2 linked regions of the Homo sapiens genome follow. Changing the gene in region 1 together with any one later gene gives a genetic interaction. Each region holds a gene or a part of one and is shown on either strand. Other genes may lie near its edges.

The links.
Region 2: changes in PCDHGA2 (region 1) and FLT3 together harm fitness less than expected from each alone (positive genetic interaction), as found in Homo sapiens cells (one study listed by BioGRID).

What each region holds. Positions count from the first base shown.
Region 1 is NC_000005.10:141,325,730-141,342,811, forward strand, and holds the start of PCDHGA2 (protocadherin gamma-A2 isoform 1 precursor), read left to right. Parts: upstream 1-13,030; 5' UTR 13,031-13,242; coding exon 13,243-15,666; coding exon of another isoform or gene 15,667-15,714; exon of another isoform or gene 15,715-17,082. Other genes in the region: PCDHGA1 (protocadherin gamma-A1 isoform 1 precursor), read left to right, coding at 4,956-7,376. UniProt on the Homo sapiens protein: Potential calcium-dependent cell-adhesion protein. May be involved in the establishment and maintenance of specific neuronal connections in the brain.
Region 2 is NC_000013.11:28,045,117-28,061,498, reverse strand, and holds part of FLT3 (receptor-type tyrosine-protein kinase FLT3 precursor), read left to right. Parts: intron 1-4,036; coding exon 4,037-4,152; intron 4,153-8,575; exon of another isoform or gene 8,576-8,667; intron 8,668-8,824; coding exon 8,825-8,954; intron 8,955-11,276; coding exon 11,277-11,404; intron 11,405-11,724; coding exon 11,725-11,864; intron 11,865-11,961; coding exon 11,962-12,115; intron 12,116-13,055; coding exon 13,056-13,224; intron 13,225-16,382. UniProt on the Homo sapiens protein: Tyrosine-protein kinase that acts as a cell-surface receptor for the cytokine FLT3LG and regulates differentiation, proliferation and survival of hematopoietic progenitor cells and of dendritic cells.

The sequences.
Region 1 (17,082 bases):
GGACGGATTACCTGAGATCAGGAGTTCGAGACCATCCTGGCCAGCATGGCGAAACCCCATCTCTATTAAAAGTACAAAAATTAGTTGAGCATCGTGGTGTGTACATGTAATCCTAACTACTAGGGAGCCTAAGGCAGGAGAATTGTTTGAACCCTTGAGACGGAGGTTGCAGTGAGCCATGATCGTGCCACTGCACTCCAGCCTGGGTGACAAAGCAAGACTCTGTCTCAAAAAAAAAAAAAAAAAAAATTAAGAATTTTAATAAAACGTTAGAACTAAATTTTGTGAAATGATCATTTTGCTAATATTTTATCAAAAACAATGATTTGTACCCTTCTTAGTAAAGCAGCTGGTATTTTAAAATATGTCTCGAGAAAAAAGCCAATACAGTCTCTTTTGAGGACCTTGAAAACTAACCTGCTAGGGATATCATACTAGGCCTCTGGGTGCCGCTGTCCGCCAATCCGTGGCTGGAGGGAAACAAAGCAATCCACTGACGCAGCAGTCCCCGCAGGCTTTTGAGACACACATTAGGAGAGGACTCTGCCCGCTGTCTGTCTCACAATCTGCTCGAAATATCTTGGTCAGGAATCTCAGGATGTCTAGTGACCCCGAGTGAGGTGCTGCCTTTTATTCCTGAGCATCTTTGGAAGCAGGAAGCAGGGAGCAACGGTAGCGAGAGGTATTCGGATCTGAGTATCAGCAGGAAGAAGAAACAGAGGAAGAAGTCCCCCATAAGGAAGGCGTGAGGAGCGCAGGAAGCGCTGTTTCCCTGCCTGAGATCTTTATTCTACTAGGTCTTTATTCTACGTAGCCGATACGCTGTAAAATTCTGGAAGAGAAGGCTAGGGGTTTAAGGTTGGTAATCTCTCAGAAGATCTGCGTCTCGGTGACGGAAAGAACTAAGGGTAAGTGCTGAGAAGCCTCTCTTTACAGCCAGAGAACGAGCCAGAGCCGAGCTTGAGAATGACGGGATAGATCTAGCAGTTATGCCCAAGGAAGACCCTCGGCCCTTTGAATTTGAAGGCACTGAAAATCGTATAAATGTTTTCATATAAACGTATGCATCTTTGATATAAATAACAAAATGGCTTTTAGCACAAATTTTGTTTTGGAAATTTTGAAAAACGTCTTAATAAGAGGAATGTTTACTCTTAAGTCTGCAGTAGATTTTGAACACCGGCAGTAACTGTACAAATATATCAGATTAGTTTTAATAGCCATCTCCCCTTCCCCTACAAGTAAAGGAGAGTACTACAGCAGTATGTACTCTGAATTGCTGCTATTGAAGAACCCCTGAGCCTGTGCAGCGTGGCACTCCTGTGGTCCCCATTACTCAGGAGGCTGAGGCAGGAGGATTGCTTGATGCCAGCTAGAGGCTGCAGTGCACTATGAGAACACCTGTGAATAGCCACTGCATTCCAGCCTGAGTAACATGGCCAGACCCCATCTCTTAAGAAAAGAAAAGAAACCCTGAACCAGAGGAGCAGAGCTGCCACCACTTAGTGGTGGGGATGGGGCAGAACAGCTCAGGGCAAGACACAGGCCTTGGATGCCAATGCCAGCCGTCAGATATTGAGCAATGTGTAAGTGGGGTTAGCCTGCAGGAGAACCTGCTCGCCACCTCCTCCTCTTCATTCTTTAGGTGATCCCCATTGACCTAGACAATATCTTTAATATAGAGTTCTCCTGATTTTTCTACACAATTTTACAGGGCATACAGAATATATTTCCTGTCCAATAATGACAGAAATACTTGATTTTGAAGAGTAACAGTTATAGCTTGGAATAGAAGACTGGAGGCAGTTTGAGGGCCGACTTCAGAGTCCTGGTTGAAATGAAGGTTGAGAAGTATAATGCAGTCAGTGCAGGTGACTTTCAGCTGGGTATCTAGTCCTATCAGAGGTAAAAACTGTGGTTGCCCTAACCAAAACAATAGGACTAAGAGACCTTAAATGAAAGATGAAAGTTATTATAGAGAGAAATGATCATACTGGCAAACAATTCACCTCCAAGAATTATGATGTGACTCTTTGTCAGATACTCACAGATGGAATTCTAAACTGGTAGCAGACCCTGAAGGACAATGTCACCATCAGAACCACCAACAAGGACAAACTGTCCCTCTCCTGCATCACCCTGCATACCATCTGCATCCACAAAAATGCTCATTCTTCAACAAGCCTCCTATTTCTTTTGGGTGACTGGGAACACTGCCCAGCACCTCCATCACATGCTTTAGCGCTTCCCACCCTAACTTAGGGTCCCATATGCCTCCTGTTTCTTCTTGACCAGTGACCTGCCACTGTGGGCACTGTCATTCTACATGTCAGTGAGTGCAGAGTGCTATGGTTACCATGCAGACTATCTTTGAGCTGACTCTGCAGGCCAGTGACCAGGGTTCAACTTGCTCAGTGTCATCCTGAACCTGCATGTGATGGTGGATGACCATTGCAAAAATGCAAGGACACTATGCCAGGAGTTGCAGCCAAGTGGGGCCCTCTTTGATGCTGCACCACTCACAATGCAACCCAGCTATCCCATCACCAAAGTGGACACCAGCTGGGGCATAAAGGCTGACTGTCCTATCATGTGCTTCAGGCCAGCTAATGTGGCTCTTCAAACTAGGGATGTGCACGAGCTAGATGCGTGCCGTGTCACTGTGGGTAACAGAGATGCAACCTGCCAAGGTTTGTTGGTCACCGTGGTCAATGGTGAATCATCACGCTGAAACATCACCTGGTTGCTGCTCATAGTTTGCAGGAGTTGCTACCAGACCTCAGCAATCGCCCAGCACCCAACAGCAGGCAGCAGACAGCACCCAACAGCTGGCGATGGCCGTTGCCTTGATCTCCATGCTGTTTCTCCTCAGTGTGACTCTGGCCATCTCTCTGAACCTGCAATGCCCCCTATAGCTCCATTGCCTGGGGCTGTTTTCAGCTGGATCTCTGGTCCAAGCCCGGATATGGAGTTGTCTCCAACTTAAAGAAAGGAAATTTGCCCTGTTCCTACAACGTATGTGTGGTTTTAGATATTTTTAAAATCTTAATTTCTTTAACTCAAGAAACAGCTTTGAACCAGGTATTCTCTGCAGTGCCAGCAATGAAGCTTTGTTTTATTTTTGTTTTTGTAGAAACGGGGTTCACTATATTGACCAAGCTGGTCTCAAACTCCTGGCCTCAAGTAATCTGCCCACCTTGGCCTCCCAAAGTGCTGGGATTGCAGGCGTGAGCCACTGTGTGTGGGCAGCAATGAAGCTTTAAATGTTGCATTTGATTCAAATGTATTTGTGTGATATTTTAACATTTTTATTTTATACTTACCATCCTTTTATAAATCACTCCTGCGTGTTTTTGGTTGCTGAAAGTAGGGAGCTCTACAGGTTTACTTACTAGTTCTTATGTATATTTTAATTTACCTCATTAGCTCACAATTTCTTTGGGGAAAAGTTTATGCCTATTAATGTGTATTCTGAAAAGTTACATTCTCTGTTAAAGAGTTACTTCCTTGCAATATTGAAGATGATTTATTGCACCTTTAAATTTCTACTCTTTGGCTCCATGTACTTGTCTTTGAGAAGCTGAGAAACTGTAGATTTGGTTAAGAACTAAAGTTCTCTTTCCAAAAACTATTATTGAGACCTTTCATTGTTTTCTTTCTTTCCTCATTTTTAACTTTTCTCAGTCATGGTGTCCATGGGTTGGCTGGCCGAATTTGTTCCTGAAATTATCAGACTCTGGAGTACAGATAGCATGCTTCTCTAACTTTGGGGTAAAGATAAGTAAGTCACTCTAAGCCTGAGACATTTTAATTAGTAACCCTTTGCTAATAGTGCAGTGATTAAAAAAAAAAGAAGGCCACATCCTCAACTGGTTAAAAAATACTGTTAAGAGAAAACCAACTTCTCTTGGAGAAAATATTAAGTGCGATTATAGAGGAATACATATTATAAGAGCCTATCTAAAAATAAAGATGAGACCATTTTTCTTTTCAGCTGTGAAGAATAATATCATAGACTTTGTCTCTGAAATTTGAAATCTAAATTATATATTCATGTGACTTTTCAATGAAATTCCAAGAGCCCAGTTTTATTTTTTTCAAAATATATTGCCTTTGGTGAATCTTAAGAATTTTTTAAAAACCCACATAATGCAAAGACACTTCAAAAAAAAAAAAGAGGAAAAATAAGGATAGGGTTAAACCATGCTCTTCAAAATCCCAAGGTTTCTGATAAATATTCAAATCATAATGGGAAGGAAATGGGATGGTATGATTTTTTTAAAGTCTAGCTTATATTCTAAAAGATTATTTTTCCCTCTAATACTTTTCACCCTCCAGTCAAAGGGGAGCTGCTCTATGTGGCCTGGGAAATTACCAAGTGGTCAAACTTTACTACAGAAAAAGTGGAGAGATGATTTTGTCCTCATTGTAATGTTAGGTTTTTACTATAATTCCCTGAATAGCAAACTTGGAAAGCAGATAACATGGGAATACTTGGATTCTCCTGTATATTTCAATTTGGTGACATTTAGGCACATTTAAAGAAGTGAACATATAGTTTCTCTTTTTCATACATATATTGTAGAATTATTTCCTTGACAATAGACTAAAACTTAAGAAAATAACAAGTTAATGAGAAGGTTTTCAGTATTTGCTAGGAATGCAGTAACTGGTTAGGACTGTGGGCGCCGCTGTTCACTAATCTGGTAGATACAGGCAGTACACACAGGTCAGGAGGAGGAAAAAAAAAAAAAAGAAAAAGAAAAAAGCTCTCGTGCCTCTTAGAACCTCCATAACCGCCAGATTGAAAACTGACTGTCCAAGACTGCCTAAATCCTACTTCTGGATGACTCTCCAGTCAGAATTCTCCTGAAAATTGGGTTAATTTCAGCTCAGAAAAGCAGAAACGATACCCTTGGTACTGGACTGGAAGAAAACTACGAAGTGAGAGAGCCATGAAGATTCAGAAAAAGCTGACTGGCTGCAGCAGGCTGATGCTTCTGTGTCTTTCTCTGGAGCTGCTGTTGGAAGCTGGGGCTGGGAATATTCACTACTCAGTGCCGGAAGAGACAGACAAAGGTTCCTTCGTAGGCAACATCGCCAAGGACCTAGGGCTGCAACCCCAGGAGCTGGCAGATGGCGGAGTCCGCATCGTCTCCAGAGGTAGGATGCCGCTTTTCGCTCTGAATCCTAGAAGTGGCAGCTTGATCACCGCGCGCAGGATAGACCGGGAGGAGCTCTGCGCTCAGAGCATGCCGTGTCTCGTGAGTTTTAATATCCTTGTTGAGGATAAAATGAAGCTTTTTCCTGTTGAAGTAGAAATAATTGATATTAATGACAACACTCCCCAATTCCAGTTAGAGGAACTGGAGTTTAAAATGAATGAAATAACGACTCCAGGTACCAGAGTCTCATTGCCTTTTGGGCAAGACCTTGATGTGGGTATGAACTCACTCCAGAGCTACCAACTCAGCTCTAACCCTCATTTCTCCCTGGATGTGCAACAGGGAGCCGATGGGCCTCAACATCCAGAGATGGTGCTGCAGAGTCCCTTAGACAGAGAAGAAGAAGCTGTCCACCACCTCATCCTCACAGCTTCTGATGGGGGTGAACCAGTCCGTTCAGGGACCCTCAGAATTTACATTCAGGTGGTGGATGCAAATGACAATCCTCCAGCATTTACTCAGGCACAATACCATATAAATGTCCCCGAAAACGTGCCGCTGGGTACTCAGCTGCTCATGGTAAATGCCACTGACCCTGATGAGGGAGCCAATGGGGAAGTAACGTACTCCTTTCACAATGTAGACCACAGAGTGGCCCAAATATTTCGTTTAGATTCTTACACAGGAGAAATATCAAATAAAGAACCACTAGATTTCGAAGAATACAAAATGTATTCAATGGAAGTTCAAGCCCAGGATGGTGCGGGGCTCATGGCTAAAGTTAAGGTACTGATCAAAGTTTTGGATGTAAATGATAATGCCCCAGAAGTGACCATCACCTCTGTCACCACTGCAGTTCCAGAAAACTTTCCTCCTGGGACCATAATTGCTCTTATCAGTGTGCATGACCAGGACTCAGGAGACAATGGCTACACCACATGTTTCATTCCTGGAAATTTACCCTTTAAATTGGAAAAGTTAGTTGATAATTATTACCGTTTAGTGACTGAAAGAACACTGGACAGAGAACTTATCTCTGGGTACAACATCACAATAACAGCAATAGACCAAGGAACTCCAGCTCTATCTACTGAAACTCACATTTCACTACTAGTGACAGATATCAATGACAACTCCCCAGTCTTCCATCAGGACTCCTACTCTGCCTACATTCCCGAAAACAACCCCAGAGGAGCCTCCATCTTCTCTGTGAGGGCCCACGACTTGGACAGCAATGAGAATGCACAAATCACTTACTCCCTAATAGAGGACACTATCCAGGGGGCACCCCTATCTGCCTACCTCTCCATCAACTCCGACACTGGGGTCCTGTATGCGCTGCGATCCTTCGACTATGAGCAGTTCCGGGACATGCAACTGAAAGTGATGGCGCGGGACAGTGGGGATCCGCCCCTCAGCAGCAACGTGTCTCTCAGCCTATTCCTGCTGGACCAGAACGACAACGCGCCCGAGATCCTGTACCCCGCCCTCCCCACAGATGGTTCTACCGGCGTGGAGCTGGCGCCCCTCTCCGCAGAGCCCGGCTACCTGGTGACCAAGGTGGTGGCGGTGGACAGAGACTCGGGCCAGAACGCCTGGCTGTCCTACCGCCTGCTCAAGGCCAGCGAGCCGGGACTCTTCTCGGTGGGTCTGCACACGGGCGAGGTGCGCACGGCGCGAGCCCTGCTGGACAGAGACGCGCTCAAGCAGAGTCTCGTGGTGGCCGTCCAGGACCACGGCCAGCCCCCGCTCTCCGCCACTGTCACGCTCACCGTGGCCGTGGCCGACAGGATCTCCGACATCCTGGCCGACCTGGGCAGCCTCGAGCCCTCCGCCAAACCCAACGATTCGGACCTCACTCTGTACCTGGTGGTGGCGGCGGCCGCGGTCTCCTGCGTCTTCCTGGCCTTCGTCATCGTGCTGCTGGCGCACAGGCTGCGGCGCTGGCACAAGTCACGTCTGCTACAGGCTTCGGGAGGCGGCTTAGCGAGCATGCCCGGTTCGCACTTTGTGGGCGTGGACGGGGTTCGGGCTTTCCTGCAGACCTATTCCCACGAGGTCTCCCTCACTGCGGACTCGCGGAAGAGCCACCTGATTTTCCCCCAGCCCAACTATGCGGACACACTCATCAGCCAGGAGAGCTGTGAGAAAAAGGGTTTTCTATCAGCACCCCAGTCTTTACTTGAAGACAAAAAGGAACCATTTTCTCAGGTAAACTTTTGTGATGAATGTATCAGCTATCTAGAGAAAAATAATTCTTGATTTAACTTACTAGCGTTCGCTCTTTGCTACAGATAGTTCTTCTAACCCATGTATCTTTGTAGCTTTTTATTACAAGTCCTGCAAAATCACGATTGAGTCTACACGTTCATATGCAGGTATATTTATAATTGTTCTTGCACTGAAAAGGAGACTGTGATCATAATGTAGGTGGTTGGGTTGAAGGTATGTGTGAGATGCCATCTCTGTTTGGAAAGAGCACTGCATTAGAAACGGCGATCTAGCTTCTAACATTTTCTTACTTGCCTCTGGGCTAAAAGGTTTGATTAGAAAAGGCTCACCAATATTTAAATGACTAACACTATTTTCAAATTTTCTTTTTATAAGTACCTGCTAATCTACCCCTGAATTTAATGTAGATGTCATCTGTCAGGACACTGTGATAGTTTATTTGGGGACATTTGAAGAGGTGAAGATTGTCTAAAGTAGTATTTTTAGTTGTGTTCATATAAGATTATAGAGATCTATATAAACTGCAATTTTAAATTATTGTTGAATATTTTAGCCTTTTATTCTATCTTTATTATCAGATTTTTTTGGTTTTGAGATGGGGTCATGCTAGAGTGCAGTGGCATGATCATGGCTCACTGCAGCCACTACCTCCTGGGCTCAAGCGATCCTCCCACCTCAGCCTCTCAAAGTGCTGATATTACAGGTGTGAGCTGTGGTGCCTGTACTGAAGAATACGTCTATTTAAGTAATGTATGAAGTAACAAAATGAACAACACAAAATTTATCATGCAACTTGAGAAATATCTTTGAAGCCTCCTGACTTATACATTATACCTGTAATGAAATCAGCTAACAAAAATCAAGTATATATCCTATTTTAATGTGTGTTAACTTTTCAGAAGAAAAAAAAAGTATGGTCGGGGAGTAAGTCCATGCTTTGATGTATTTACTCTGCTCCAATAAAATACAGAGATACATAAAATATAAGAGGAAAGCAAAAGCAAAGTGGTGAGCTAGTCTAAAGCCATGTGAGTTATAGTCTTGGACTTAAAAGCAGAAATTGAAGGTTAGGAAACTGCCTCCAGCAATGTAATAGGGACAGAAGTGCTTCAGACTAGATAAATATCTGGACCAGGCTTACTGCCTGAATCCAAAATAAGCAATGAGGCCCTTCAGCTGGTTAAAAAGGAAAAGAAAGATGCATTAACATGCTGCCTAGCTGGGCGCAGTGGCTCACGTCTGTATTTCCAACAATTTGAGAGGCTGAGGCGGAAAGATCCTTGGAGCCCTGGAGTTCAAGACCAGCCGGACAGGGCGGCCTGCGACTGTAGTCCCAGCTACGCGGGGCGGGGAGGGGCGGGGCGGGGCGGGGCAGGAGCTGACGTGGGAGGATCCCTTGAGCCCAGGAAGTCAAGGCTTCAGCGAACCGTGATCGCGCCACTGCCCTCCAGCCTGGGCGACAGAGCCACACCCTGTTAAATAAATAAATATAATAATAAAAGCTGTTTCCCAATTCCGGTGGTTATAACTTTCTTCGTAAGCTGTGTAGACCAAGAGAGAGAGACAGACACGGATGCTGGATAGAGACAGCGAACACCAAGTATCTCATATGTGAGCTGTGGTATCCAGAATATCACTGCTGTGCATCATTAAAGCGTCATTAAGAGACCTAGTTATGGCCTGGGACCTGAGGTCAGATAGAAACTATTTCAAAACCATTACAAATGAGCACTGAACCCAGGAGGGAAGGAGAGAGGGATATAGTGTAGAAGAGAAAAAAACAAACTAAAACTAAAAACAAACAGAGCTCTTCCACTAAAAATAAATATACAAACCAAAATTTCAAAACACACTTGTCTCGTAGAATTTATTGTTACTAGTGAGAAACTTTCTGTCAACACACTGTTATTTTTTAAGGTAATCTCTGTTTTCTCTCTGGTAACTATTGAAGACTTTCTCTCATTCTTGCTGTGTGTCTGTTGCATTTTTATTTTTATTTTTTGCTTGGTACCAAGAGTATACTCTCAATTGATAACTAAGTTATCTCACTTCTGGACTTTCTCAGCTCTTATAATCATAATTTTTTTTCTGTGTATATACAAGTGAGCTACATTTACCTATTAAAGGACAAATATTACAAAACTGGTTGATTTTTAAAATCCATATTCTAATAATACACGTGCTTAAAATAAAAATACACTGAAACAGTGAAACTAAATATATATGTACACACACAAAAAAGAAAGTCATGTTAATGTAACAACAAAGTCATATTTAAGGTAACAAACACAAATTGTGATTTTAAAAAATGAACTGATTATAGTTGTAAAAAGAGCAGATGATCAAAAGGATATAAAAATATAAGCTTCTATTACTGAAAAATATAGCTTAGAAAATACCGGAATATTTAAACATAATTCCATAAGAAATAATAGACCCCACAGGAAGAAAGTTAGTTAACATAAAGAAGATTTGAACAACATAATTTAGAAGCTTGATCTATTAGGATTCTAATAGATCCGTTCTGCACACAACAAATATGGAATAGTCATCCTTGAACAAGCAGACAATCTACAAGTTTATTACCTAGTCATTACAAAAAAGGGTTCAGCAAATTGCAAAGTACCAATAATATACTTGCCTTACAACACATACTTAATCACAAAGCAAACATTTAAAAATAGAAAAGGGAAAAAGTTTGGATATTTACATCTACACCCTTAAATAACTCTTGGATTTCAAAAATCACAATGACAATGAAAACTACTCAGAAAAAAAGGACTTAAATATTCTTTATTAAAAATTGTGAGATGCAACTAAAACTAATTAGGAGTAAGTTTATAGACAAATGCAATAATTTTTTTAAAAGCAAACAAAATTATTTAAAATACATGAATTTAGCTTGCCATTCAAGAAGTAAGATAAAAAACATACAATGAGTATATACTAAAATAAAATGATGGAAAAAATAACAAAGAGTTACATTTTTGAAATGCAACCATGGAAGAGTTCTGAGGATGAAATAATGGAAGCAGACAATAAATGTAATAAAACCAGTGGGGAGAAAATGAAAATTCTGTCAAGTCTAACGTTAGGACTCATGTAAGAGAGCCAGGCACAATGGCACACCTATAATCCCAGGTACTGAGTAGGCTGAGGCAGTAGGATTGCTTGAGCCCAGGAGTTTGAATCCAGCCGGGGCAGTATAACAAGACCCAATCTCTATAAAACAAAAAAACACAAACACAAACACAAAAATAAAAATAAAAAACAAAAGCAAAATATACCATAGTAGCTCTACAAGAAAACATGGTGAGTTGGTATCAATTATTTCCAATATATTTTTCTTCAGTCTTGTAAGAGGAATGGATGAAAGTAAAAATGAGAAAATTTCAATAAGGAAGGAGCCAAAAGGCAAACAGATTAAAGTGTCACCAGAAATGGGCAATTCCACTTATGCCACATACAAAAATTAATTCAAAATGGATCAAAGAAGCAATATTCAGAAGCAATAAAACCCTTTTAGTTATTATGTTTAAGAACTAAAACTATACAACTCTTAGAAGAAAACAGGAGGAAACCTTCATAACATTGATTTTTGGCAATGATTTCTTGGATATGACACCAAAAGCACAAGCAACAAAAGAAAAAAATTGTATACTGGACTTTATCACAGTTAAAAACTATATGCAGCAAAGAACAATATCAATAGAGTGAAAAGGCAGCCCACAGAAAGAGAGAAAATGTTTCCAAATCATGTATCTGAGAATGGATATCCAGAATAAAGAACTCGAACTCAACAACAAAGAATCCCAAACAATTGGATGTTAAAATGAGCAAAGGACTTGAATAGACATTTCTCCAAAGATGATATACAAATGGCCAAAACCATATGAAACAATGTTCAACATCACTAGTCATTAGGGAAATGCAAATCAAAACCATAATGAGATACTACTCCACATTCATTAGAATTGCTGTCATAAAAGAAAAGAAAAGAAATGTTAACAAGAATATGGAGAAATTGGAATTCTTGTGCATTGCTGGTGAATATAAAATGACACAACTGCTGTGGAAAATGGTATGGTGACTCCTCAAAAATTTAAACATAGAATTACCATATAATCCAGCAATTCCACTCTGGTTATTACCCAAAAGAAGTGAAAATAGGGACTTCAACAGATATTTGTACACCTATGTTTATGGCATCATTAGTCACAATAGTTGAAAAGTGGAAGTAACCCAAGTGTCCATTGACAGATGAATGGGTAAATAAAAAGTGGTTCACACATACAATGGGCTGTTATTTAGCCTTAAAAAGGAAGGGAATTCTGTTACATGCTACAATATGGACGAACTTCAAAGACATGATATCAAGTGAAATAAACCTGTTATAAAATGACAAATACTGTATGATTCCTCATATATGAAGTTCCTAGATTAGTCAAATTCATAGAGAAAAAAGGTAGAATGGTAGTTGCCAGGGACTGGGTGAAAGGCAATGGGGAGTTGCTATTTAATAAGTACAGAGTTTCAGTTGGGGAGGATGAAAAAGTTCTGGAAGTGGATGGTGGTAATGGTCACACCAGAATGTAATTTGAATGTACTTAATGTCACAGAATTGTATGCTTGACTATGGTCAAAATGGTAAAGATGAAACAAGAGTAAGAAGACATCCACTGCATTGTATTTTACACCCTTGGAAAATGAATATCAGAAAAAGAACTTGACAACCTCAAACAATTTTGAGTGACTGATTCCTAGTGTGGTGAAAAACCCCTTCCGGCTCTAGCTTTATCAAATAGACCTGCTTTCTGTTTCTGTAATGTTCCATGCTGTCTCTTACCTTCAAGCATTTGTTCAGAGGTTCTAGAACACTTCTTCAGCCTTTTTCTTGATTCAATCCTACTTTTTATGATTCAGCTTCAATCATGCCCTCAAAAAGACTTTTCTGACCCCAAATCTAGACTGGATACCCCTCCTAGGTATTCCTCCATCACCCAGTGTTTCCTACCTCATATCACAGCAGTTACCATACTCTATTATACTCTCTTTACTTTCTTATGTCCTCCTCCAACCTTCACGCTTGAGACCAGGGCCTGTGTTTATCATGTTCACCATTTCTAGCTCCAGCTGCAATCATGCAAAGTGGGAGGCACATGTACCCAATTAAGTGTCTGATGATTCAATAATTTAAAGGCAGATTTTGAAGGTAAATGCAAAGCCATCAACCATAAACGTTCAAAATATATAACCTTAGAAGAAAACGTAGCTAACGTTTCTTAATTGATCTTACTGCTTCTGATTATACAATAAGAGATGGAAGATGTTTGGAGCAAGGGCAGTGGTGGCATTGATTAATGCCTTGAGCAGTCAATAATACTTTCCTAGCAACTATTATCAAGATCATGTTCATTTATACCATTCTTATTAATCCTGATAAAAAGATTCCTGTTTTGAAAGATCTAATTCTAGGGTATCTTAGAGCTGTAAGATTCTTTAAAGCGCCTTGAAAGTCAACAAAGGCAAACAAACAAGAAGTAACTTAGGTTTTCCTGAGCAGGTGCAGAAATTATTTAGGCCTCTGAGCGTCGCTGTTGACCACCTAAGGAGTAAAAGGCAGCGAGACATCCAATCCAGCAATACGGCTCCCACAGCACAAGGGGGTGGAGGTTTGGCCCTAAAGCTTCAGGACACCAAAGAAATTCAGTCGAACAGCCCACCAGTTCTCTCCATAGGGACCTGGGTCCCGTGAATGCTGGTTATCTCACACCCTGAGGAATAAAGATTGGAATCCGCACTGGATGCTGGAAGTTGACTCGGAGAAAATTGCGACAGGAGGGAAATGGCGGCTCTGCAAAAGTTGCCACACTGCAGAAAGCTGGTCCTGCTGTGCTTCCTTTTGGCGACCCTGTGGGAGGCCAGGGCCGGGCAGATTCGCTATTCTGTGCGGGAAGAGATCGACAGAGGCTCCTTCGTAGGCAACATCGCCAAGGACTTGGGTTTGGAGCCCCTGGCACTGGCAGAGCAGGGAGTCCGCATCGTCTCCAGAGGTAGGTCCCAGCTCTTTGCTCTGAACCCGCGAAGCGGCAGCTTGGTCACTGCGAACAGGATAGACCGGGAGGAGCTCTGCGCTCAGAGCGCACCCTGTCTGTTGAATTTTAACATTCTGCTGGAGGATAAATTGACTATTTATTCAGTAGAGGTGGAAATAACAGATATTAACGATAATGCCCCTCGCTTTGGAGTAGAGGAACTGGAGCTAAAAATCAGTGAAACCACTACGCCAGGATTCCGGATTCCTCTTAAGAATGCGCATGATGCAGACGTAGGTGAGAACGCCCTTCAGAAGTACGCACTCAACCCAAATGACCACTTCTCCCTGGACGTGCGAAGGGGAGCTGATGGGAACAAGTACCCAGAACTGGTGCTGGAGCGCTCTCTGGACCGCGAGGAAGAGGCTGTTCACCACCTCGTTCTCGTGGCTTCTGATGGGGGTGACCCAGTGCTATCTGGCACCTCCCGCATCTGCGTGAAGGTCCTGGATGCGAACGACAATGCGCCTGTTTTTACACAGCCCGAGTACCGCATAAGCATTCCGGAGAATACGCTCGTGGGCACCCGGATACTCACGGTGACCGCCACTGACGCAGATGAGGGCTACTACGCTCAAGTGGTATATTTTCTAGAGAAAAGCCCTGGAGAAACCTCAGAGGTATTTGAGCTTAAGTCAACATCTGGAGAACTGACAATCATAAAAGATCTAGATTATGAGGATGCTACATTCCATGAAATTGATATTGAAGCTCAGGATGGTCCGGGCCTTCTAACCAGAGCGAAGGTTATCGTCACGGTTCTGGATGTGAATGACAATGCCCCAGAATTTTACATGACATCTGCTACTAGCTCAGTTTCTGAAGACTCTCTTCCAGGAACCATAATTGGGCTTTTTAATGTACATGATAGAGACTCTGGGCAGAACGCATTCACCACCTGTTCACTCCCCGAGGATCTTCCTTTTAAGTTAGAAAAGTCAGTAGACAATTACTACCGACTGGTTACAACCAGAGCCCTTGACAGGGAACAGTTTTCCTTTTACAACATCACTCTAACCGCTAAAGATGGAGGGAACCCCTCCCTGTCCACGGATGCTCACATTTTGCTCCAGGTGGCAGACATCAACGACAACGCACCCGCCTTCTCCCGCACATCCTACTCCACCTACATTCCCGAAAACAACCCCAGAGGAGCCTCTGTCTTCTCAGTGACGGCCCATGACCCCGACAGCAACGACAATGCTCATGTAACTTACTCTTTCGCGGAGGACACTGTTCAGGGGGCACCCTTATCCTCTTACATCTCTATCAACTCCGACACTGGAGTACTCTATGCACTGCGCTCCTTTGATTATGAGCAGTTGCGAGACTTGCAAGTGTGGGTGATAGCGCGGGACAGCGGGAACCCTCCACTCAGTAGCAATGTATCATTAAGCCTGTTCGTGCTGGACCAGAACGACAACGCGCCCGAGATCCTGTACCCTGCCTTCCCCACAGACGGTTCCACTGGCGTGGAGCTGGCGCCCCGCTCCGCAGAGCCCGGCTACCTGGTGACCAAGGTGGTGGCGGTGGACAGAGACTCGGGCCAGAACGCCTGGCTGTCTTACCACCTGCTCAAGGCCAGCGAGCCGGGACTCTTCTCGGTGGGTCTGCACACGGGCGAGGTGCGCACGGCGCGAGCCCTGCTGGACAGAGACGCGCTCAAGCAGAGCCTCGTGGTGGCCATCCAGGACCACGGCCAGCCCCCTCTCTCCGCCACTGTCACGCTCACCGTGGCCGTGGCCGACAGGATCCCCGACATCCTGGCCGACCTGGGCAGCCTCGAGCCCTCCGCCATACCCAACGATTCGGACCTCACTCTGTACCTGGTGGTGGCGGTGGCCGCGGTCTCCTGCGTCTTCCTGGCCTTCGTCATCGTGTTGCTGGCGCACAGGCTGCGGCGCTGGCACAAGTCACGCCTGCTGCAGGCTTCAGGAGGCAGCTTGACAGGCATGCAGAGCTCGCACTTTGTGGGCGTGGACGGGGTTCGGGCTTTCCTGCAGACCTATTCCCACGAGGTCTCCCTCACTGCGGACTCGCGGAAGAGCCACCTGATTTTCCCCCAGCCCAACTATGCGGACACGCTCATCAGCCAGGAGAGCTGTGAGAAAAAGGATTTTTTATCAGCGCCTCAATCTCTACTCGAAGAAGAAAGAGAAGAAACGTTTTCTCAGGTAATCTATCTTTTCACAACATACGTACTAGCTAGTTTGCTGAAGTAATTCACTTACTTGTTTACTATATCTATTTTGTTCCCCATATTTCCTTGAGGGTAGAGTCAAGTTTTAGGAAGTGAGTCTTGGTGAATTATTTCTTGGTAGGTCTTAGTGTTCACAGGCTGTAAGAGGAAGAAGAGACGTGAGAATCTTTGTGCAATGAATGTAAACCAGGAGTTAATAGATAAGATTATCCAAAGAGCACTGCATTAGGAACTAGGGTGTCTGGTTTCTTATACTTTCTTCTCCATCCCTGGGCAAATCATCTCATCCACCCAGATCAACAATTTTTTCTTTGTTAAAAATATAAAGATTGGAGTTTATGTTTACTCAAGTCCTTTCTTCTTTTAAGTTATGACTCTTACTCTATATTTGAATCTGTATATGAACAGTGAAACATGTTAGTTGGCTAGTTCTTTCTCATTCAGTCTTAATACATTTCTTTCAGTTTGGCAGCAAAATTGTTTTCCTTAACTTGCATGCCCTTCCCTGTTAAAAATATGGAAATTTAGAAATATACATTCCTTACAGTGTTTCAGGAAGGTATGTCATATTATTTTGGCTTAGTTTTAAAAATCACATTAACCTCTAAGCTATATGCTTCTTGAAGAAGTGACTGACTTATCATCTGCTCTATAATAAAGCTGTAGAGTGGTAATAAACAGGTTTCTCCTTTTTTTTTATCTTTCTCATACGTGGGAACCATACTGTATTTTAATCTTTAAAATAATATATATCCTCAATATAGTTTTGCTTAAAGAAAAGATACAAAAGATTCATATCATACAATTGCCCAGAACCAACTTCTTTATACATCTCTCTTCTCAAGGTTTCTACTCACAATAGCTGCTAGAAATGTTCCCAATCCCTCACCCAATCCCAGTGCCCCTCTGATCAATTTTCTTTTCCCATTCCTCTTCCTATATTGGCTTTTAGTATGTTGGTTATGTATTTAATAACAGAGAATAATAAGCACACTAATGTTCTATGTAACTGGCATCATTTTTTATTTTTATTTGAAAATTATCATGTACCAATTGAGCCTTTTATTGAATGATACCATATTTCTCAAAGTGCTGTGATTCTTTCCGTTGCATTTGATCAAGAAAAAATTTTCTGAGACAAGGTGTTGTTTTGGTTACTATTACATAATTGTCTATGAGTAAAATTGGAACTCACTGTGGAATAATATGTCATAATAGCTTTACTTGTAAGTGAATAATAAAGTATAAACAGGAAAATTAAAGCAAAGTTATTTTTAGTGTGTGTAGTAACTCCACAAGAATAAATGTCTTATGCATAGATATGTAATGCATCATGATTGAAACGACAAATATATTGTATTTATATTTCTGTGCTTGGAAACTTATGGGG
Region 2 (16,382 bases), on another chromosome or scaffold:
TCACTGCGCCTGGCCTCGGCCTGTTTTTTGTAACTCTTATCTTCAGTGAAATAATGAACTAAAAATACAGTTAGGGCATCAATACATGACATTATATATCTGTCAAATCTCATAGGATGTATAACACAAAAAATGAACCCTAATGCGAACTATCTCGCTCTGTCATCCAGGCTGGAGTGCAGTGGCCTGGTCTTGGCTCACTGAAACTTCTGTTTCCCAGGTTAAAGTAATTCTCCTGTCTTAGCCTCCTGAATATCGGGGATCACAGGCGCACACCACCACACCCAGCTAATTTTTGTATTTTTAGTAGAGATGGGGTTTCACCATGTTGGCCAGGCTGGCTTCGAACTCCTGACCTCAGATGATCCTCCCACCTCGGCCTCCCAAAGTACTGGAATTACAGGCATGAGCCACCGTGCCCGGCCCAAACTATGAACTTTAAAATTGGTTCATCAATTGTAACAAACATATCACACCTATACAAGATGTTAATAATAAGGGAAACTGTGTGTGGAGGGAAGGGCATATATGGCATCTTTCTGTGTCTTCTGCTCAATTTTCCTGTAAGTCTAAAACTCTCTAAAAAGTAAAGTTGGTTGGGTGCAGTGGCTCATGCCTGTAATCCCAGCACTTTGGGAGGCCGAGGTGGGAGGATCACCTGAGGTCAGGAGTTCGAGACCAGCCTGGACAACATGGTGAAACCCCATCTCTACTAAAAATAAAAAAATTAGCCTGGCATAGTGGTGCGGGCCTGTAATCACAGCTACTTGGGAGGCTGAGGCAGGAGAATAGCTTGAAGCCCAGAGGGGGATGTTCGGTGAGCCGATGTCACGCCACTGCACTCCAACCTGAGAGGCAAGAGTGAGACTCCGTCTCAAAAAAAAGAAAAAAAGAAACAAGTCTATTAAGTTAAACCTATACACACAGACACATATATAAGTATATAGAAAGCAGTGAGTGGCTGGCAAAATGTAAAACAAATAGTGAAAAGAATATCTAGGATTTTTTTTCCTTTTTCTTTTTTTTTTTTTTAAATATTTTTACCTTATTTACAATTAAGAATTTTTTTTTTTTTTTGAGGCAGAGTTTTGCTCTGTCTCCCAGGATGGAGTGCAGTGGCACGATCTCACCTCACTGCAACCTCTGCCTCCCAGCTGCAAGCAATTCTCGTGCCTCAGCCTCCTGAGTAGCTGGGATTACAAGCACCCACCACCATTCCTGGCTAATGTTTTTTGTTTTCATTTTTTTTTTTTTTTTTGTATTTTTAGTAGAGACAGGGTTTCATCATGTTGGCCAGTCTGATCTCAAACTCCTGACCTCAGGTGATCCACTCACCTCAGCCTCCCAAAGTGCTGGGATTACAGGCGTGAGCCACCGCACTGGGTCTATTTGGGATTTTTTAAGTGTCTTGTTTTTTAGTTGGATATCATGTTAAAGATAAAATTTAGAAAGTTTTCATTTCATTCTTGTTAGTGTAGCAAGAAATTTCTTTTTTAAATTTATTTATTTATTTATTTATTTATTTATTTATTTATTTATTGAGGCAGAGTCTTGCTCTATTGCCAGGCTGGAGTGCAGTGGCATGATCTTGGCTCACTGCAACCTCCTCCTCCTGGGTTCAAGCAATTCTCCTGCCTCAGCCTCCCGAGTAGCTGGGATTACAGGCACCTGCCACCACGCCCAGCTAATGTTTGTATTTTTAATAGCGGTGGGGTTTCACCATGTTGGACAAGATGGTCTCCGTCTTTTGACCTCTTGATCTGCCCACCTCGGCCTCCCAAAGTGCTGGGATTACAGGCATGAGCCACAGCATCCAGCCAAGAAATTCTTTAAAAAAAAATTTTTTTAAAGGAAATTTATTCTTGGGAAATGCTTGGGAAAAGAACATTTGATCTTATCTATTTTGTTTCACAATATGATAAGCAGAATTGCAATGTTATGTGCTATCTACAGATTATTTAGTAAGACATTGATCTGTCTGTGAGGAACATCGATCTCATCCAGAAAAATGTCTTAGCCAAGATGTGTGGGTAATGTCCTAACCCTGTATAGCTCTATGCTGATTGCTGCCCCCTGCTGTCCTTGTCCTCTTGCCGAAATGAGATGGGGCAAAGGACATAGGTCAATTAAATGCCCTCTTAACGCAGCCTTTCTTTTACATTCTTGTGGCTGTCCTGTTGTCCCTTAGGTGTAGAGAAGGCACGCGCTTTCCAGGAACTATGTAGTAAACAGTACCCAAATGGCCTGCAAGGGGTATCGGGCCCCTTGATAGGGTCTTGGAGAACGTCTCTGTGATCAACTTGTACCAGTTATTTGTATTTGTTTTTAAGGTCAAATACATTCTTCTCTTAAGTGATTTGCAGGACAGTGAGTATAGTTCTGAAGTTGAGTTCTAAATCTTGGAACGCATTCATTTTCCTTTCCTCTTTTGCGATTGTATTACTCACTTCTTGTTTTTTGGCTGCAAATGTGCTGGGATTACAGGCGTGAGCCACAGTGCCAGCCACATTTTTTCTTTTTATTGGGAAGGCATCTCAATATGTTGCCCAGGTTAGTCTTGAACTCATGGCCTCAAGTGATCCTCCTACCTCGCCTCCCAAACTTCTGCGACTGCAGACGTGGTGGCTCATGCCAGGCGAATGGTTCAGAGAAAAAAAGCATATCATCAAAATAGATCTGCAGAAGCAAATCAAGTATATATCCTGCTAATTGACTGTGTTTAAGAATGCAGGCCCATGTTCTATTGAACCTGCTTGCTGCTTTAAAGCAGGGCTTCTCGAATATAACCTGTATTTGGATTGCCTGGGGATCTTGTTTAAAATGCAGATTCTGATGAGTAGGTCTCAGTGGGACCTGAGATTCTACATCTTTGTCAACTCCCAGCTGATGCTAACACTGTTAGAGAAAGACTACACTTTGCACAGTTAAGGGTCTAAAGGTCAGAAAGTGTGAACTTATTTTATTATTTTATTTTATTTTATTTTTTGAGATGGAGTTTCAATCTTGTTGCCCAGGCTGGAGTGCAATGGCATGATCTTGGCTCACCGCAACCTCCGCCTCCCGGGTTCAAGCAATTCTCCTGCCTCAGCCTCCTGAGTAGCTGGGATTACAGGCATGCGCCACCCCACCCAGCTAATTTTGTATTTTTAGTAGACAGGGTTTCTCCATGTTGGTCAGGCTGGTCTTGAATTCCCGACCTCAGGTGATCCACCCACTTCAGCCTCCCAAAGTGCTGGGATTACAGGCATGAGCCACTGTACCTGGCCGTTTTTTTTTTTGTTTTTTTTTTTTAATTTTTAAAAAATAGAGGTAGGGTCTCACTATGTGGCCCAGGCTGGTCTTGACCTCCTGGGCTCAAGTGATCTGCCAGCCTTGGCCTCCCAAAGTTCTGGGATTACATGTGTGAGCCACTGCACCCAGCTTACTGTGCTTTTGTTGTTGTTTTTTCAGTTTTTTTTTGAGACGGAGTTTCACTCTTGTCACCCAGGCTGGAGTGCAGTGGTGCGACCTGAGCTTGCTGCAGCCTTTACCTCCTGGGTTCAAGCAATTCTCCTGCCTCAGTGTCCTGAGTAGCTGGGATTACAGGCGCCTGCGCCATTCTCAGCTAATTTTTGTATTTTTAATAGAGACAGGGTTTCACCATGTTGGCCAGGCTGGTCTCGAACTCCTGACCTCAGGTGATCTGCCTGCCTCGGCTTCCCAAAGTTCTGAGATTACAGGTATGAGCCACCGCACCCGGCCTCCTGTGTGTTTTTAGATGGGAGTTTTCGATCCTAGAAGCTCAGAGAAGGTGAGATGATGGCACCGGAATGGAGCTCTCCCACCCTCAAGGGGAGGACTGGTTAAAAGTCAGGGTTCAACGAGCAACGCCCAGGCTGAGTGCTGGGCACATGACAGAAGCTGTGTTCTCCACAGAGCGGCTTCCGTGCCAGTCGGGGAACGCTGGAGTACCAAACTGCCTTTTTAGTCACTATGAAATTTTGTTTTTAGTTTCACACATTTTCCAAAATAACTAGTTCTCTTTCCTGTTTTGCAGAGGAGTTGTTTCCATGGTCATTTTGAAAATGACAGAAACCCAAGCTGGAGAATACCTACTTTTTATTCAGAGTGAAGCTACCAATTACACAATATTGTTTACAGTGAGTATAAGAAGTAAGTCCAGCCTGCTACTAGTATTCCAGCCTGGAATACCACAATATTTCAAAGGAGTGGTTTAGAACCCGTTAGCTTGACCAGCTCCTCTAGACATATTCAGGTTTCCCTTGATACGTAGTTGGATTGATTAGATTCCTGTCAACCCTCTGTAGAACCTATAGAGAACTGAGAATCACTGATGAATCACTGATGTGTGCCGTGGGCTCTCAGAATGTGACTGCTGCTAAAAACGCCTGGGACGTCCTCTGTTCAGTAGCAGATGGCTGACAGGGAAGAAATGGAAAACATTTTGACCTTGGAATCAGAAGACCTCTGTTCTAATTCTGGTTCTGATACTACCACCTATGGCAGGTCACAATTTCTCTGAGCCCCGATTTCCTTATTGGTAAAATGAGGATAAAAATACGTACCTCACAGGATTGGAAGGTCTCAGCGTGATCCAATAGAACTTTCTGAGATGATGAAAATGATCTTGTCTGTTCTTTCCAATACAGTAGCCACTGGCCACATGGGGCTGTTGAACACTTGAAAGGTGGCTAAGGTGACTGAGGAACTAAAGTTTTAATTTTATTTAATTTTAATTTGTTAAAATTGGAATGTAAATAGCCCCATGCAGCTAGGGGCTACTGTGTTGGACAGCGCGGGCCCACATGCGTGCTAGACCATATGCAAACTGTAAGGAACGGTCCAGATGTTCTGACCAAGGGAGGCAGCTGTGCAGTTGGCAGAGGCACCACCTGCGTGTGCTTTCTGGCTTCTCCTTGTTTCGTCCCCATCATGCACAGACTCCGTGCTATGCACACTGAACTTGCTGCTTCGCCTTCCATGACCAAGAAGGACTAAAGGTGTCTGCATTCACTTAGGTCCTCGTGCCTTTAGGGGCCAGTGCAGTGCTCCAAAAACCCTGGGTTAATATCACTTGAAATTAGGTCCCCCCGACACATTGACACAACTTGCCAGGCTCCCCTCTTCCTTGTCAGTGACTAAATGTCCGGCCCACAGAGGTGCCCTGGGTCAGGAGTAACCACAACTGCCCTTTGCTGAAGATCTTCTGCCTGTTTCATCTCAGATGCTCACAGCGATCCTGCATGCATGTAGATGAGAAAACAGCCCCTCTGAGAGGTGTGGTGGTGGGCACAGCTGGAGGCTTTCTGCACCACACTGCCCTGGGTCTTGTGTGAGAATGTGTGGGTCTTGCTGTCAAAGCTACTAACAGAAGAGAGCACGCAAGAGTCCCAGAAGCATCATCTTACTGGGGTTGGGGGTGGAGTAAGGTTCTAAAGTCAGCCTGTAAGGTATACATGAGCTAAAGTCAAAATTACCCAAAATTTATTCTGGAAAGTCCTTTAATTACTCTGAAAATGATAGGACCAGAGCCCTACAAGCTCCAAAGCCGAGAATCACCTTATGTTGCTCTTTAATGTCGGTCATGTTCCCTGCCCCCTTTCTAGTCCCTCACCGCCTCTGTGGGACAGTAAATACGTGCCCCAGGTTGGATGAAGCTAGGACGTTTCTTGTTCTCTACTTCTCTTCCTCTTTCTCCTTTTTTCTCTCCTTTTAAAATTTTCTTGCCAAGTATAAACAGTTGTATAAGGTAAGTGGGCATCTGCTGTGTCTCTGTTATACTTAGGGTATATTCCTTTCACTTAAGATTTACAATGTAAAAATGTAACAACAGTTATTCAGGTAAATTATAACTTATTTTTAGCATTCTGCAAGGTGGTGGGATCCAAAAAATAGGTGGGAGAGATGTGGCAACAGTCAGTGTGAAAAAGAGGAAAGGGTTTAGTCAACCACAAGCTCAGTATTAACCACCAGCGTGGCATGGTTGCCAAAAAAGTAAATTTGAACCTTGGCAGTGTTCATGAAAATATAACGTCTAAATTAAGGAAATTAATAGAAGCTTATTCATTTCAGTTCTACTTTTTTAAAGATGAATACTGACAAAATGAGCAACCAGGATAGTGGAAAACTTGGAATTCTTTAAATTAGGAGCAGTTGAAGGAATTGGGAATGTGTAGTATATAGAAGGAAATGTTTTGAGGAGACGATAAGATTGATTGCAGTGTAATGCAGAGGAAATTCTTTTGGGATTTGAGTCAGGAAACCTGAGCTAACTAGTTAAAGTACCTTGTATGGTAATTATCTCCCTTGATCTCGGTTTCTGATTTTAAATATTTGAAAGATTTTCATATGGAATCAAAGCTAGACTTTAAAAAAGTTGCTCTAGAGGATATGATAAGAACCAATTGTTAGAAATTACAGGGAGAAAAAGTAAAAATCACCTCAAGATGGGAAAAAATACTTGCAGTTCACAATCAACAAAGGATTAATAGTCATAATATGTAAAGTCAATAAGATAAACAATCTATATAAGTCAATAAGTCAATAAGAAAAACGAACAAAATGAAAACCTAGTAGAGCAATGAACAAAGGACATGAGTAGGCATTTCATTTTTGGAACATGAAACCTAAATGGTCAAGAAACATGTTAAAAGATAAACTTAGGCACTTTAAAGTTGTAAAGAGTATATTTGAGCAGAAAGCAATTCATGAATCAGGCAGTACCAGATGGCAAGCAGGTGGGCTCCAGTGAGGAGATTCAAGGGTAAGACTTCTTTCTATAATGTGTTCCCGGAAGCAAGACAAAGAAAAAATTTGATTGTTTAAAGAAGGACAGTCCCTGGATTGGTCAGTTTGCAGTTCCTCATTGATTAAGCTAAGTTGCATTTTGCTGCTCATATTGAATTGGGTTTGTTTTTTGCTTTTTGTTGTTGTTGTTTTTGTAGAGACGGGGTTTTGGCATGTTACCTAGGCTGGTCTCGAACTCCTGGGCTCAAGCGATCCTCCCGCCTCACCCTCCCTAAGTGCTGGGATTACAGGCGTGAGCCACCTTGCCCGGCCTTTATTCTTTTCCTTTTTTTTTTTTTGAGTTGTGTTGTGATTTGTTTACCTAGGAACTCAAGCTGTTAGAGTTGTCTCAGCCTAATGGACTCCCAATTAATTATTTTAACACATGTTAAATTAATAATGGAGAAATTAAATTAAGACCACAATGAAATACCATTTTATACTTGCTGGATTGCTGAAAATTAAGAAGTCTTGGTAAGTCTATAAAGCAATAGGTGCTCTCATATCCTGCTGTGTAACATAAATTAGTATAACCACTTTGGAAAACAAATGATCATTATGTGTAAGGCTGAATGTGCTCATACCATGTAGACCAGCAGTTCCACTCTTAAGAATGTTATTAAGGAAACTGTTATACACATGCCTCAGTACAAATGTGTAGAATGTTCAGAGCACATGGTTGATCATACAAAAAACTGTGGCCGGGTGTGGTGGCTCATACCTGTAATCCAAGCACTTTGGGAGGCCAAGGCAGGAAGATCACTTGAGCCTGGGAGGTTGAGGCTGTAGTGAGCTGAGATTGCACCACTGCACTCCAGCCTGGGTGACAGAGACCCTGTCTCACACACACACACGGAAGGAAACAACCCAAATGTCTACTGCAAGAAAATGAAAAAATAATGATATATTTACCAATAGAATATTATGTAGCAGTAAAAAAAAAAATGAATAAAGTATAGCTACATGTAAAACCATGGATGAATTTTAAAAACATAAGGTTGGATGAAAAAATGAAGTTGTAGAAGTTACATATTGATTGATAACACTATTTTGAAGCTCAAGAATGAAAAAATCAATATATTGTTTAGTGCCACATATTTATTTGGTATAACTACTTTGAAGAGTCCTCGAATAATCAACAAAATTCAGGATAAAGGATACGTGCAGTTGAGAGGTGGGGAGAAGCATAAAAGTAGATCAAAAGGTATTTATTAATATTCTAGTTATTAGGTGGATAGTGGCTCCGTGGGTATTTGTTGTTGTTATGCTTTGAAATTTACACTCCATATATTCTTTCATATATATATATATATATCAAACAGTACATAGTATTTTCAAACAAAATTTATTGTAAGGAGAGAGGCTGGAATTCAGTATAGGGAAACTTTCTTTAAAAAAAAAAAAGTTTGTCAGAAATTAGAATGACCTGCCCTGGGAGGTCATGAACTCCAGTCTCTAGAAGAGTCAAAGTAGAAGTAGAAAGTTTATGTTAGAAATAGCTGGGAGTGAAGGATGGTGTGTGTGTGTGTGTGTGTGTGATCCAGGGTGAGTGGGAGGCTCAACTAAACCTCTTAAGTTCTGTTGCAATTCCAACTCCACCCTACCATGTTTCTTCTGTCTTTCTAAATCTTAGTATATTTCTGCCTAGTTGCAGATCAAATTATAGGAAGAAAGTTGAGGTCTAAACTATGTGTTAAACAAGGGTTTAAGCCATATGTTATTGCTAATTTCCTTTTTCCTGTGCCTATCAATATTTGTATTTTCACATGGCTTCACTCGACTACTTTAGTTAGCTGTGGATTTGTGAAATACCCAAAGAAATTGGCCAAGAGGAGAAATGTTCAAGTTGACACTGCAGCCACAGCTAAATTTAATATAATGGTTGGTTTGCTTTTGATGCCTTTATTATGAAAAAAGAAAAAAATATGTATACGTAATGGTTGAGAACTTTTCATAATGACATAGAATCCTTTTCTGAGGGGCTGCTAAGAGAATTATTTTTAAAATAGTAAAATGTTAATAACTTATGATGCTTTAGATACCCTGCTTTACACATTAAGAAGACCTTACTTTAGAAAAATGGAAAACCAGGACGCCCTGGTCTGCATATCTGAGAGCGTTCCAGAGCCGATCGTGGAATGGGTGCTTTGCGATTCACAGGGGGAAAGGTATGACACATCCATGGTAGCTGCTATTCTCATAATTTCCTTTTGGCCTTTTTCTAATGTAGTTGACATCAAGCTGTATGTAAAATTTAATTTATGCTCATTTAAACAGGAAACTTTGGCTTCTTAAAGTTAAAAAATGGCCAGTATAGGGCCGGGTGAAGTGGCTCACGCCTGTAATCCCAGCATTTCGGGAGGCCAAGGTGGACAGATCACTTGAGGTCAGGAGTTTGAGACCAGCCTGGCCAACATGGTGAAACCCCATCTCTACTAAAAATACAAAAAATTAACTGGGTGTGGTGGCAGGCACCTAAAATACCAGCTACTCTGGAGGCTGAGGCAGGAGAATCTCTTGAACCTGGGAGGCAAAGGTTGTGGTGAGCCAAGATCACGCCATTGCACTCCAGCCTGGGCAACAAGAGCGAAACTCCGTCTCAAAAAATAAATAAATAAAATTAAAAAAATAAAATAAATAAGTAATACAGAATGGCCAATGTGGGCTTCACAGGGAGGACAAGGATTTTTTTGGTAAGGGGCTTTTTGGAACCCCTCAAATCAACTGCAGGGCCCTTCCTGGGCATCATGCTACACAAGTAAAAGTCCCTCTACGTTCCAGGATTGTTGGCTCCCTGGGCATCTGGTTGGGGCAAAAAGAAAGATACTGATTTTAAAGTAGAATTATCTTATAAGTAAGAAATTCTAGGCTGGGCACAGTGGCTCACGTCTGTAATCCCAGCACTTTGGGAGGCCAAGACCGGCGGATCACGAGGTCAGGAGATCGAGATCATCCTGGCTAACATGGTGAAACCCCATCTCTACTAAAAATACAAAAAAAATTAGCCGGGCGTGGTGGCGGGCACCTGTAGTCCCAGCTACTCAGGAGGCTGAGGCAGGAGAATGGCGTGAACCTGGGAGGCAGAGCTTGCAGTAAGCCGAGATCGCGCCACTGCACTCCAGCCTGGGTGACAGAGCGAGACTCCATCTCAAAAAAAAAAAAAAAGGGAAATTATAGGCTGGGCACAGTGGCTCACACCTGTAATCCCAGCAATTTGGGAGGCCGAGGCAGGCAGATCACCTGAGGTTGGGGGTTCGAGACCAGCCTGACCAACATGGTCAAACCCCGTCTCTACTAAAAATACAAAAATTAGCCAGGTGTGGTGGTGGGCATCTGTAATCCCAGCTACTCAGGAGGCTGAGGAAGGAGAATTGCTTGAACCCGGGAGGCGGAGATTGCAGTGACCCGAGATCGCGCCATTGCACTCCAGCCTGGGTGACAGAGTGAGACTCCATCTAAAAAAAAAGAAAAGAAAGGAAGAAAGAAATTCCTTGTGACAAAATGTTTAATTTCTGATTATCCTGTTTGTTCTGGGAAAGCAGTCTAATATGATTGTTTAAAGATATAGAATCCAGAGCCAGATAGCCTGGGTTTGAACCCTGGTTTGCTTAGCAGCTGTGTGGCCTTGGACAAGTTACTTACTCTCTGTGCCTCATCAGAAGAATGCGGATGACAACAGATACTTATAGGATTGCTATTCTGATTAAATGAATTGATATATGTAAAGCACATAGAACAGTGCCTAGCCAATACTAAGTAAGGTATAAATGTTTACATAGTTTTTCATATATGCCAAAGTTAAGTTCTTACAAAGTAAAAATTCATGCAGTTTGAACTAATTAAAATTTACTAAACAACTTTTTTTTTTTTAAAATAGGACCAAATAGAAGGAGAAAAAGTACCAAATACTTTGTTCCAAAGTGGTACAAAAGTTCGCTTTCTGCTGAGGCAGGGAGAGGGGTTTTGCTCTGTTGAATACTTGGGAGTCTTGGCTGACTTCCCTTGTGGGTGACACCTTGGCCCTCCTCTGTTCCTATGGGAACTCGGGTGACTTTTGAAACTTTAGCTTCCCCCTCCCTTACTGCGTCCCAAAAGGATGCTTACCTTGCTAAACTTCATGAAAGCCCAATCATGCTTTTTCTCTTCTCTCTTTCTTCTCTTTTTTTCCTTTATCTTCTTTCTCATTTTTTTCCCTTTCTTTCCCTGTCTTTAAACAACAGCAACAAAGAGATCACCAAACATGAACAATTTTAAACTGTTTTGTTATGTAATTCTCCTTAGTGTTATGCTAATTCATTGCGATAATGAGTAACTAGCTAGCTCCCCTCTGAGCTCTTAGCTGAAACCATAGATATGGGCTTGTTTACCTTTTGACCTTTTGTTTACCATTTGACCCTTAAAACTGGCTCTAGAACTTTGTTCTCCTCTTGAGCATTCATTTGTAATTTTAAAACTTGTTTAGCCAAATGGTACTTCTTTTCTAATTGCAGCTGTAAAGAAGAAAGTCCAGCTGTTGTTAAAAAGGAGGAAAAAGTGCTTCATGAATTATTTGGGACGGACATAAGGTGCTGTGCCAGAAATGAACTGGGCAGGGAATGCACCAGGCTGTTCACAATAGGTAACACTATAATATCATGCACTTTCATTTTCAGTGACCGGTTCTTAGCAACTATCAGGGACTAACAGTAACTGCGTAGGTGATCATTCAACTTCAGAAATCCTATCATTCCTTCAGGTCACAGTAAATGCAATATTATGGATTCTGTAAATGCTGATTTCTTCATAAAAGAGGAGTCAGTCTCTAAAAGCTTCTTTTATTAATGTGGTTAGTAATATTTGAGATGATGCTAAAGTCTTTGTTCAGAATGTTCAGGATATCTTTTGTGATGAGGCAAAAATCACTTTTTTTTTCTCACTTGGGATGTTTTCATCTCCTAGATCTAAATCAAACTCCTCAGACCACATTGCCACAATTATTTCTTAAAGTAGGGGAACCCTTATGGATAAGGTGCAAAGCTGTTCATGTGAACCATGGATTCGGGCTCACCTGGGAATTAGAAAACAAAGCACTCGAGGAGGTAATAGGACAAGTTTGTATTCTGAAAATGCAGGAACAATTAACTAATAGTCTGGATTGAAAACATTAAATGCAAACTCTGTTTTATTAAAACCTAGGGCAACTACTTTGAGATGAGTACCTATTCAACAAACAGAACTATGATACGGATTCTGTTTGCTTTTGTATCATCAGTGGCAAGAAACGACACCGGATACTACACTTGTTCCTCTTCAAAGCATCCCAGTCAATCAGCTTTGGTTACCATCGTAGGTAATGCAGGCTGCTCACACAATCTTTATTCCTATTTTTAGTCGCTGTAGTGTGGAATGTGAAGTATGTGGTACAAATTCTGATTTCAATATAATGCTACTATCAAACACTAAGAAAGAAACTGAGTTAGAATAGCTTTGCAAAGATAATCTGCCCACCCTCTTCCTTTTCCCGTTAAACCAGGCTCGCTTGAATGCCACTGTCTTTGCATATAACACATTGTAATATGACCATCTGTTTGTGTACTTTTATCCTCCAGTAGACTGTAAGTTTCTTAAGGACAAGAACAACTCATTCTATCCTTGTAGTTCCAGAACCTGACACAGAGCCTGACACAAAATGGACAATAAATACTAGTTCTAAGAACCAACTAACCGCACTGTTAGGGCAGTGAGCACTGAGAGACAGTACAAGCCCTTAGATGCACTGAAATTTTGGTGGGGTATGTAGGATCTGAAAATAACCACAGTTCAATAATCTCAGATTAGGGCACAGCGTTCAGCCATAATGAAAATGCCGAGAAATACAGCGATGCTCTTAGCAGATTAATAAGGAAGTGTTCCATAAGGCAACCTCGTGAATATTGCTAGCCAGATCGCTCTTTTATTTGTGCCTTGAGTTTATTTTACTCTCTCTCATCAATGGAAGAGTGGTGCTGGCTGAGAGCAGGGGCCAGACAGTCAATTATCTACATCCCATTCTTTTTCTTTCCTTCTTTCTTTTTTTAAACATTTCTTAACTTCGAAAGATGATGAGCTCAGGCTTAGAACTAGGGATAGGACTCCTGGGTTTTCACTTGGATTATCCAACCTGACCTGCAGCATGCCAACACTTGAGTTTTCCTGTGTTAAACTGATGAATACAAGTTTATTTTATCTTCTCAATACGTTTCCCTATGAATATTATTAACTAACTCATAAATGCCTATTTTTTCTTACAGAAAAGGGATTTATAAATGCTACCAATTCAAGTGAAGATTATGAAATTGACCAATATGAAGAGTTTTGTTTTTCTGTCAGGTTTAAAGCCTACCCACAAATCAGATGTACGTGGACCTTCTCTCGAAAATCATTTCCTTGTGAGCAAAAGGGTCTTGATAACGGATACAGGTGAGACCACAAAGGACTCTAAGATACCATTTTTAGCATAATTCTCCTTGCTTGTCGCCCTTGAGAAGGACAGTTTTATACTTATGGAAGCAAATTCACTTATGAGTTTAACTATTATTGAGTTGAAATTGGAGATAAGAAAACAATAAGCAGATGTGAGGATACAGTAGCAGTCTTACCATTACTTTAGATAATATAACCTGCTGCATGAAAACAGAAAGAACCGTATTAGTCTGGTCTAGTTTGAGTCTGGTTCTCTGGCATTTTCTGAGTCACAAGGTAGTTTTTACTTCCTGTTTGAGAGTGCGGTGTGTAGGACACTGAGTCTCCCCTAAAACATTTGCAGATGATTGAGGAAGTAAAACTCCTTAAAAACAGAAAAACATTACTCATAGGTGTATTGATTTAAATTTTCAAAAAATACATGCAGAAATAGCCCAATAGTAAGTGCTGAAGGAAAATGTTGTTTTCCTCGGGATTTGTATGAGAAACTATGCAAGATTCTTTTTTTTAAGAACAACAAATTTTCTTTTCTTTTTCTTTTTCTTTTTTTTTTTTTTTTTGAGATGAGGTCTCACTCTGTCACCTAGGCTATAGTGCAGTGGTGCAATATTGGCTCACTGCAACCTCCACCTCCCAGGCTCAAGTGATCCTCCCACCTCAGCCTCCCAAGTAGCTGGTACCACAGGTGCACACCACCACACCTGACTAATTTTTTGTATTTTTGGTAGAGACAGGGTTTTGCCATGTTGCGCAGGCTGGTCTCGGACTCTTGAGCTCAGGAGATTCACCCTACCTGGGCCTCCCAAAGTGCTGGGATTACAGGCGTGAGCCACTGCACCCAGCCGAAAGATTCTCTTGTGGGAGGAATTCTCCATTCCTTCTTTGGAAAACAAAAAACAACTTTCCCCTATATCTTCTATAGTTATGACATCTCTTGTCTCTTTAAACTAATGCTATGGAACATGGTTTTGGACTAGGCTATGAGACACTGAGACGCACATGTTATCTTTCAAACAAGTCAATGGACTAGAATAAATCATCCTTTCTCAGCATGTGGTCTGTTGAACAACTGTGTAAGAATCATCTGAGCAAATGTTTAAAATGTGGATTCCTGGCTCCCATTCCAGACATGCTGACTCAAAACTGGGGCAAAACGCTCAGACTCTGCTTTTTTAATGAGAACCTTTGGTGATTCCTATCACAGGTCTAGATCTGTGCTGTCCGGTACGGTAGCCACCAGCCACATGTGGCTATTGAGAGCTTGAAGTGTGTCTGGTCCAAATTGAGATGTACTCTAATTGTAAAATACACACTAGATTTTGAAGACTTAGTATGAAAAAAAGAATGTAAAATATATTATTAATAATTTTTATATTGGCCGGGCTCGGTGGGTCACACCTGTCATCCCAGCACTTTATGAAGCCAAGGCGGGTGGATCGCTTGATCCTAGGAGTTTGAGACCAGCCTGGATAACATGGCAAAATCCCATCTCTACAGAAAATACAAAAATGAGTTGAGTGTGGTGGTGTACACCTTTAGTCCCAGCTACTTGGGAGGCTGAGGTTGGAGGATTGATTGAGCCCAGGTGGTCGAGGCTGCAGTAGCCATGATCACGTCACCGCACTCCAGCCTGGATGCAGAGCAAGAACCTGCCTCAAAAAGAAAAAATAATAATAAAATTAAAACAATTTTTACATTGATTATATATTAAAATGATAGTATTTTGGATATATCGCATTCAGCGAAATATGTTATTAAACTTAATTTCACCTGCTTCCTTTTACTTTATACAGCCAACAGAATTTGTAAATGATGTACAAGGCTTGAAGTTGTGACTCACATTCTGTTTCATTGGCTAGCCCTGTTCTAGATGAAGAGTAGGAGTTCTTTTCACCTTGATTCCGCTAAGTGTTTGTTTCATGATTATTGTTACTCTTTATACCTAAAAGGGATTTGTACTAAAAGTCCCTTGTTGGGACTTTTAGAATCTCAGTGCAGGGTTTGCATGGAGTTGTCTACTGTCTCTTACTGAAACCCCCCAATGTTCAGAGCATTCATTTTTAAAGTAATTAAGAATGCAGACTGGTCTGGGAGCTGACTGAAACACACTCCCCCAAACTCAGGGTTTGTCAACAGTGGCGCTGCTGGCATGTTGAGCTGGATAATTCTTTGTTGTGAAGGACTGTCCTGTGCACTGTAGGATACTTTTCAGCATCCCGGGTCTCCTCCCACTGGATGCCAGGAGCACATTCCCTTTTCCCAGTGTGACCAAAAATATCTCCAGACACTGCCAAATTGAGAAAAATAACCCCTGGCATTTTTTTTTTTTTTTTTTTTGAGAACCATTGCCTTAGAGGCATCAACCCACAGTCATCGTAAGCTGTTATTCAGAAATATCAAGCTTTTTTTTTTTTTTTGAGACAGAGTCTTATTCTGTTGCCCAGACTGAAGTGCAGTGGCACGATCTTGGCTCACTGCAAGCTCCTGGGTTCAAGCAATTCTCCTGCCTCAGCCTCCTAAGTAGCTGGGATTATAGGTGCATGCCACCATGCCCAGCTAATTTTTTGTATTTTTAATAGAGACGGGGTTTCTTCATGTTGGCCAGGCTGTTCTCGAACTCCTGACCTCAAGTGATCCAACCGCCTCAGCCTCCCAAAGTGCTGGGATTACAGGCGTGAGCCACCGCGCCTGGCCCATCAAGCTTTTAAATGTAGAAGGTTGGAGAGTCAGCCCCTCTTTACCCTAGTTGACTTGATTACCACTTGGCCTGTGTTCAGAAGGAAATCAGCATATCACTGTCCCCTCTCTCCTTTGTATCCTATCCCCATGTTAGATAAGCTCTTAGCATTATGGGAATCTCTTCTGAACCTGATTCAAAGAGAGAAGGGGTCGATTCAATTTAGTTCAACAAATATTACTTTAATATCCTCTTGATGGGTGTGATGCTGTGATGGGCTGCAAGAGTGAATAAGGTAATGTTGCTTTCCCTCTCCCGCAAGAATGTACACAGATTGCTACTGTGCTGGTGATATCTGGTATAACCTTTTGAGATTTTACAGAATCGCCAGTTGGGGACCATGTCACTGACATATGGGTCATGGGCCAATGTAGTGGGCTGCTTCATGTAGTTTCATTCCATGGCTACAATCCATACC